Homo sapiens: one gene and its partner. The protein of the gene in region 2 purifies or fractionates together with the protein of the main gene of each other region. This does not show direct contact. Each region holds a gene or a part of one and is shown on either strand. Other genes may lie near its edges.

What was found. Proteins that work in one complex are often made in the same cells at the same time.
Region 1: the proteins of CLPB (region 2) and PAG1 purify together in Homo sapiens (affinity purification with mass spectrometry; 2 studies listed by BioGRID and IntAct, with this or other methods). This does not show direct contact.

Annotation. Positions count from the first base shown.
Region 1 is NC_000008.11:80,983,069-80,986,568, forward strand, and holds part of PAG1 (phosphoprotein associated with glycosphingolipid-enriched microdomains 1), read right to left. Parts: intron 2,310-3,500; coding exon 1,708-2,309; intron 1-1,707. UniProt on the Homo sapiens protein: Negatively regulates TCR (T-cell antigen receptor)-mediated signaling in T-cells and FCER1 (high affinity immunoglobulin epsilon receptor)-mediated signaling in mast cells.
Region 2 is NC_000011.10:72,423,955-72,428,986, reverse strand, and holds part of CLPB (mitochondrial disaggregase), read left to right. Parts: intron 1-5,032. UniProt on the Homo sapiens protein: Functions as a regulatory ATPase and participates in secretion/protein trafficking process. Has ATP-dependent protein disaggregase activity and is required to maintain the solubility of key mitochondrial proteins.

The DNA of each region.
Region 1 (3,500 bases), on a different chromosome or scaffold from region 2:
CCAGGATCGAGCTCTGGTTCTCTTTCTCCTCACTGCTGTCCTTGCTCTTCCCTCTCCACCCACAGCAGTCCCCTCCTCTTCCCTTAAAAAGCCAGTTGCAAGCTCTAGCTTCAGGGGCCTCACACTGGGCATCCCCTCTGCTTCACGTGCTCTTTCCACAAAAGCACAAACCTCACCCCCTTGGATCCTTTAACTCAAACGTCACCTTCATAGCTGGGCAGACCCTGACCACTCTATCCAAAACTGTACTCCCCACCTGTTTTCTCAGTTCCCCTTATTCGGTTCTATTTTTTTCTCTTATAAACTTTAAACTTTATGTCTGTCTCTTCCCACTAAGATGTAAGTTCCACAGGGCAGGGATTTTGTTCATGTACATGTTTTGTTTCCAGGACTAGAAGACTGTGTGGCACACAGCAGGTGCTTATTAAGATCTTTTGTTAAATAAATGAATGAATATTAAATACTTCAAACCCTCAACTCACTTAAAATTAGGGTTGTTTATATAAAGATGATGGATTACTCATTTTTACTATATTGTGGAAGGATAATTTTATTTCCAGATGATTATTTCCAGTTTTTAACGTGAAATCTGGAGAACTGTTTACTAGCAATGGTTAGACAACTCAACGTCTTATCTTTCTAATGCTTGTAAGTAAAAAGCTTTGTCTGGTTTAGGCAGCATGAACTTTACATCAGGTTTATGGTCTTTGGTTCTATGAAGGGCAAAAAATTGGACTGCATTTTTATATTTTATGAACATGTTCATAAACCCTTTTATTGGTGCTCTCAACAGCTGATTTCATGGATAATATGAAAAGTTGAAATGCATTCAGAGAACAGCACAAAGAATGATTTTCTTGGTCTAATTTATACAAACAGAGTGAGGGTTCACCTCTGGCCATGAACTACGGAAGGTTTTTAAGGCTACTAGTGACTGGCTAACCTGCTACTTGTCCTTCCTACTAAAACTGAATAGAAGAGAGAACCTTCCTCTTTTTCTGTGTAGAAAACAGAAATTAATTATTAGTTGCCTGAAGTAGATGGGCCTAGTTAAATCCCAAAGAGATTTTAACAACCAGGGATGTGAACTTCATCGTGGCTCAGATATCAAGTTATCAGACACATGCAGAAGGTGTGGATTGCTAATGCATTTTACAGCTTTGTTGAATATCTAAATTTAGGAAGTATAGGCTATAGTTTAGAAAGGGTCACAAAATAAGATCTCCTACTGATTTATATGAAGGTTTGTACAATCAGATATAACCAGGGGCACCTGTGAGTTGGTTCCCATGGTACCTGTTGCTATGCATGCTGATTTTTGGGGATCCTGGAAGGGGAAAGGTCACCATGCTGCTGAGGCAGCCAACAAGCAGAATGGGTAAAATGTGTGGGCAAAGTGTCCAGTTTCTGTATTTAATTTGTGGACATCAAAATGAAGCAAACAAGATTTGGCCCTAATTAGACATGATGGAAAAAATGTGAAAATATCCAAGTAAGGTGCTGAGAGAAATATTTGATAAATACAAGTTTTTGGTATTTTATTACTTGGAGGGGGAAAAAGCCAAACACAGCTTACATGAAAACAGCTCTCATCATTCAACAAACTGGAAAGTGTTTGCAGATATTTCCCAGAACAACTCCAGGGCCAGCTAGATTCCTAACCAGAACAGGAACCCACAAAGACAAAACAAAAACGCCAGTGCCCACCTTGTTAGTTTCACTGGTCGTGTCTGTGGCACTCTCTTCCGCCTCTCCCCCTTCCTTCTCCTGAAGGTTTTCATTCTCGTCCAGAAGCTTAACAGGGACAGGTGGTGGGGCCTCCTCTTCTGGATCACATGAATTTCCAAGGATACTCTCTACATTAACACTTTGACGACATTTTTTGTTTCTGTCCACCGAGGCATATTCAGCAAACTCAGCTTTGCCTTCAGTCTGGGGCCCTGGGAGCTCTTTCGAGGCAGAAGTAGATTTTGCCTTGCCACTGTGGCCTTTCTCCAGGTGTGCAGCTGCAGCCACCTCCTTGATCTCTTTCACAGTTTCATACAAGCAGTCCTCCACCATGTTTTCTTGGGAGGAGCTGTCCTTGAGCACTTCATAGGGCCCTTCCATCCCCAGCCCCTGGTCCCCGTCCACACTTCTCGCCGTGAGCATGGTATCCACTGCGCTCTCGGGAGGGATTCTGGGCAGCTCCCGACTCTGATGACATTTTGGTTTCCCTGTGCTGTCCTGGGAATCCAGCAGATCCGAGGCCGATGTCTGGACTTCCTCGTAATGCTGCATGCAGGTCAGAGTACTGTCCTCTGAAAGAACTAAAGCAGCACACACATTAAAAGCGGAGAAAGGCAAGTCTTTCAATAATTATTACCGAGAATCAGGTAATATAAAGTTAGGTTAAATCAAGATGCGTGCTTTTTATTTAAGTCTCAGGCACAAATTATAGTTGTTATGACCATCAGTTGGTATCCTACTTCAATCACAGTTTAAAATAAAGCTGTTCATTATATCTTTCCCAATACAAGATTTAATAAGTTATCTTGGCTCTAAGTGTAGTTCACAATTACTTTCCTTAATGTCACTCCAATGAGAGACTCTTGTAGGCAGATTGTCCAATGTGACCAGAAGATGACCAGTTTGATGCCGCTGAACTATGGGAGGCTGGACACCAGAAAGGCAGCATGTGCAGTGACCACAGTCCCCAGCACCACTGACCCCTGCCTGTGTGGAGGGAATTATTGGTAGCCACCCCCTTTCACACAGGTGACTTTTGTTTGGCAGACATAATAGAAACTACAGGGCAAACATGCACCCGTCAGCCATTAGCACAAAGGGACTGGCACCTCATACCTTGCTTCCATCTCATCCCGCCACCAACATTCCTACCTCAAATTAGAAAAAAACCAAATGTGAAATTCTTGGCCAGCCACAGATATGCTATTGTGTGAAGCTGTTCAGTCGTCCCTTTGTCAACCGTGTTGTGAGTGCCTGCCATGCACCAGGGATGGTGCAGGGTGCTGCAGACACATCATTCAATGAAACAGAAAGCCCTGCCCTTAGGATGCAGACACAAAGTAAGCAAGTTATTCCATTAGTGTCTCACTCTGGGGGAATTAGAAATAGTGTTTCCAAGGGGTATGTGAAAAAATGACAACGGATCCCCCAATCCTTCTGAACTTACCAACACCCCTGTGTGTTCTAAATCCCTGATCATCACGGAGGGGGTGAACTTTTGCTCTCTGGTTCTAGTTGTCTACATCATGGTAGACAGAGAACAGGCACTGGTGTCCTGATTACCCCACAGTTTCCTCATCAGTAAACAGGGGTAACAGGACGCCCTCTTACCTCAGGTAAAAGCATGGTGTAAACTCTAAAGCATGAAGGAAACCTAGCTGCTCCTTCCATCAGCAAGAGTACACAATGCATGATGCAGAGGTTATGCAGAGTGACTGAGTGCGTGCCCAGGGATCAGACTGCCTGGTTCCAACTACAGATCCTTAGCCCGC
Region 2 (5,032 bases):
CCTTTTGGCAGGGCATTTGCAGAGCAGCAATGTTGGGAATCCACTCTTCCATCCCCCAGGGGATGCCACTACCATATTCCATTGAGCTGCCAGGCATTGATTATTTAGTTCTTTCAAATACATGTTTTTCTAATAGCAATTAAACACCCATCCCAAAAATACAGAAAGTAATTGAACTTAACGGTGTATGTGTGATTCAGACAATTTTTCTGAACATTCATTCTCGTGTGGATAGTGTCTGGGGGGGCTTTTCATGTGTGTCCCCAGGCTCTAGCCTGCTTTTCTCCTGCCTCCTCTTGTCCCACCTCACTTGGTCAGGATGACCCTGTCAGAATCTCCCTTCACTCCATGTGAGGACATCAGAGATGAGCGAGGCACAGACCTGCCCTCAGCCCCCATCTCATACAAGACCACAGAGCCAGGAGCAAGCTAAGCAAAGGCGGGAAGCAGATGCTGGCTGGCTGCTGGGCCTGCGGAATATGTTGATGCTCCTGAGGTGGGATTTGTACAGGGTGTCAGAAAAGAGGGAAGGTTGTCTGAGAGAAGCTGGAATGTGCAAGGCCTGCCATGCCCAGGGTGAGGAGTTTTGAACTCTTACTCTGTACACAGTGGGGAGACGTGGGAAGTTTTTGAGCAGGGGAATGACCCAGTTAAGGCTGACTTGCAGAGGAGTGAAGGATGGACTGCATTGGGAAAAGGCTGAGGGCCGATCTGTTAAGAGGCTGTTTCTGTTTCAGTAAAGACAGATTCAAGATGATGAGGGCCTGAATGAGGACATCCTTCCCTCCCCCTCACCCAAAGCAGCTCTTGATTATGAAAGAGTGAGTGGGCCTCTGCTGGGCACTGCAGATGGGGGATGGGGATGGTGACCCAGGCCCTGGTCTCAAGGAAACAGACATGTAACCCACCAGTTATAGTTCTTCCTGCGAACAGAGCCAGGTCTGGGGGCAGTGGGGGTAAAGGGAGCCTGACCATCCTTGCTAGAAGGAAACTTTCTGGAATTCCTACAGTAGGTCCTTATTCAGCCTTTCTGTACCCTAGACTCTGTACAGGTGGTTCATGCTGCTCTTTATTTCTTCTTCAATGTCCTGGGCTCTTAGCTCTGCCCAACAGACCTGCCTATAGCAGGACAGAATCCCATACTCATTTATTTCTTTGAATTTACACATACAGTCATGCCTTGCTTAACAATAGGGACACATTCTGAGTAGTGCAATTTCATCACAGTGTGAACATCATAGAGTATACTTACCCAAACCTAAATGGTAATAGCCTACCACACACCTAATCTATATGGTATAGCCTGTTGCTCCTAGGCTAGGAATCTGTATAGCACGTTATTGCCCTGAATACTGTAGGCAATTGTAACATAATGGTAAGTATTTATGTATCTAGACATACCTAAATACAGAAAAGGTCATTTGTTGCACTATGATGTTGAGACAGTTACAACGTCACAAGAGGATAGGAATTTTTCAGCTTCATTATAATCTTATAAGACCACCTCATACATGCAGTCTATCGTTAACAAACACATCATTGTGTAGCGCATGACTGTAGGTTACACATGGTTGGGTCACTGTGTATATGATTGATATGGTCAATAATATCAGTATTTAGAGCAAAACTCAGACCTCGTAAATAATGTCGTGCTTTACCCTTCTTCCCCACTTGACCTCTCTGGGGCTCTGTACTGTGTCTGCCTCTACTTGACCTCCCCCAGCTCCTGTCCTTAGCCCCAGAGTCTTGGGAAAGTTCTGGATAGTGAAGGGCAGCAGCCTAATGCTCTTCTGCTCCCAGGGGGAGGTATTCGATCCTCCTCTTTAAGGACACCCTGGAATCTTCAGTCCATGGGCCCTGGATGTGGGTCCTCCACAGATGGCCCTCTGCCATCTGTATTCATTATCCTCTGCTTACACCTTTCAAAGCTCTAGTGCTGCTTTCCTTACAGAGCCTTCTTGGATTCCTCCCAGCTGGGTGTGATCTCATCTTCCTTTGCCTCTTCCCCCCACTCTGATCCTACACCTGCCTTCTGGTCTGGGAGGGTATGAGGGTGATCTAGAAAGGACCATGGCAGCTTGTCACAGGAGGGAGCTCCTTTTGTGGAAGAGAAGCTGGAGGTCAGGTTGGAGAAGTAGAGCTGAATGCCACTTGCCACACTGTTCTTTATATGAAGAAGTCTGTGGGCTATATTTCATCTGAAACTGCTGGATTGTGCACCTCCTGAAGGGCAGGGACAAGGTTGTGTTCTCTACCGTCTTTTACCCTGTTCCACAGCACAGCGGCACTTACTTGTTTTTTGTGACTCTTTCTTTGCTTTTTATTGACTTTTCAGTGTACCTGAAGTAAGCAGTCCAGAGGCTTTCACACTCCCCTTGGCTATATCAGAGGGAGGCCAGGTCTCTTCTCTTTCCTCCCTCCCTCGCTCCCTCCCTCCCTCCCTTCCTGTGTGACATCCATTTCCTCCCTTCTCCCCTGAGGCACTTAAGTTCATCCATCTCTGGTTCCTCAGAAGTGGAAGCCTGGCCTCCTACCTGTCAGCAGTGTGAGCAGGTGGTCCTGCTCCTGGGCTTACCCCAAACTTGAGCCTGAGGAACTGCTCACCCGAAACCTAGGGCACAAGGCAGACTAGAGGCACATCTGTCCAGGCTCAGGCCAAGCCATGTGAGGAGTTGTCAGGACTGGGACTGGGAAAAGTGAGGCCTCCTGTTCTCCCGGTGGAGATCACATTTCCTTCAGCACAAAGTGGGTGAAAGACAACACCCCTACCCATCTCCCTTCTCCCAGCAGGGGGCTAGGCCTCTGCTGAGTGCTTACCTCAGTTGTTCATCAGCCCAAGCAGTCTCTAATAAAGGAAGCCTGGCAAGATCAGTCTTGGGCCTCAGACTGCCTGCCCTTTTTCTCCAGGATTTATTTATTCATTTGACAAACAGCATCTGCCATATCCTGAGTCCTCTGCTTGGCACAGGGAACACTTAAGCAGTCATGGTTCCTGCCCATGATGACAGAGTCGGGGTAAACTGTGGCAATAGGGTGGTCAGTGCTGTGAGACAGGAAACTACAGGGGCTGCAGGAGACCAGAGGACAAACAGCCTGGAGGATCTGAGAAAGACTTCCAGAGGAAATGGCACCTGATCATAGACTTAAAATATCAGTTGGACTTTGTAAATAGAAGGGGAAGCCATTCCAGGCAAAAAGGGCAGCATATGTGGTAGCATAAGGCAAGGAGCAGCCTGGGGGGTATGCAGAGGGGAAGTCACTTGCTGTTCGGTGTTGCTGGATCACAGTCTGAGGCCAGGAGGGACTGGAGACAGGTAGCGACCTGGTCGTGGAGAACATTGATTGACTCTCCGTTTGTCCCTCAGTCGCCCATCTGTCCAGCCTGTGCTTTGTGCCTAGCCCTGAGCTGAATTTGTGGCAACAAAATGAGGAAGGAGAAACAGTCCCTGCCCTAGAGGAGCTCGTGTGCCCTCTGGTGAGGAAGAAGGACATGAGTCAAACATTGAGAGCCAGTGAAACAAGGAACAAATTACCTACCTTCCAACTAACATGAAGATGATAATAACTAACCCCACAGAGTGGCAGAGTCATTATTACTAATAACAAAATGATTAATTCATTCAGCCAATACTTACGAGTGCATATTCAGAGCTAGGCATTGGGCTGAATGTGGCAGTTAACAGTAACGAACAAGATTGGCACAGTCCCTGCCCTCTTGGCACAGTCTAACTAGGAGTCAGATAACTAATTATGCAACTGTAAAATTAGTAGAAAGAGTTTACTGGGGCCAAGTTTGAGGACTGCAACCCAAGAGTCTAGATTCAAGTTGCCATAAATATATGCTCCAGATTAGCAACAGTTGCAAGTGTGTTTTTAAAGGGAAAAACAAGAGACACTTTTTTGTTGTTTTTGAGACAGAATCTCAGTCCGTCACCCAAGCTGGAGTGCAGTGGCACGATCTCGGCTCACTGCAACCTGCGCCTCTTGAGTTCAAGTGATATTCATACGTCAGCTTCCCGAGTAGCTGGAATTAGAGGTGCATGCCACCACACCTGGCTAAGTTTTTTTTTGTGTTTTTTTTTGTTTTGTTTTGTTTTTTTTGAGACGGAGTCTCATTCTGTCCCCCAGGTTGGAGTGCGGTGGTGCGATCTCGGCTCACTGCAAACTCCGCCACCCGGGTTCATGCCATTCTCCTGCCTCAGCCTCCCGAGTAGCTGGGACTACAGGTGCCCGCCAACGCGCCCGGCTAATTTTTTGTATTTTACAAAGAGACAGGGTTTCACCATGTTAGCCAGGATGGTCTGACCTCGTGATCCGCCCGCCTCGGCCTCCCAAAGTGCTGGGATTACAGGCGTGAGCCACCACGCCCAGGGTATTTTTGTTTTTTTTTTAAGTAGAAATGGGGTTTCACCATGTTGGCTAGACTGATCTCGAACCCCTGACCTCAAGTGATCTGCCCACCTCGGCCTCCCAAAGTGTGCTGGGATTACAGGCCTGAGCCACCACGCAGAAGAGGCACTTTCCAAGTTGTTTACCAAGAATTTACATTAAAATAACAAGCTATTGTTTGGCTATACATTGTTCTTTGTATCACATATTCCAGGAACTACAGGAAAATAATGGGTGAGGCAGCTAGTTAGGAAACTACAGGGTAGAAAAGAAAGAAAAAAATGGCTTTAAACAATTGCCCCCAGGCATGGGGCAAGGGTGTGGGGTTATGGCTGAGCGCCTATACTCAGGTCTCTCTGGGCCCGATACATTTTGCATAAAAATATGATAGAACAGTACATCAGAATATTATTCATCAATTCAAAGGAAGCACTGATACGTGCTACAACATGGATGAACCCTGAAAATATGCTAAGTGAAAAAAGCTAGTCACCGAAGGCCACTGTCTTTGTCTGTTTGGGCTGCTATAACAGAATACCGCAGATTGAGTGGTTTATAAACAGCATAAATGTATTCCTCTCAGTTCTAGAGATCAAAGTCCTAGATCAAAGCTTCTGGTAAATGAGACTGAAGTGAACTCTTA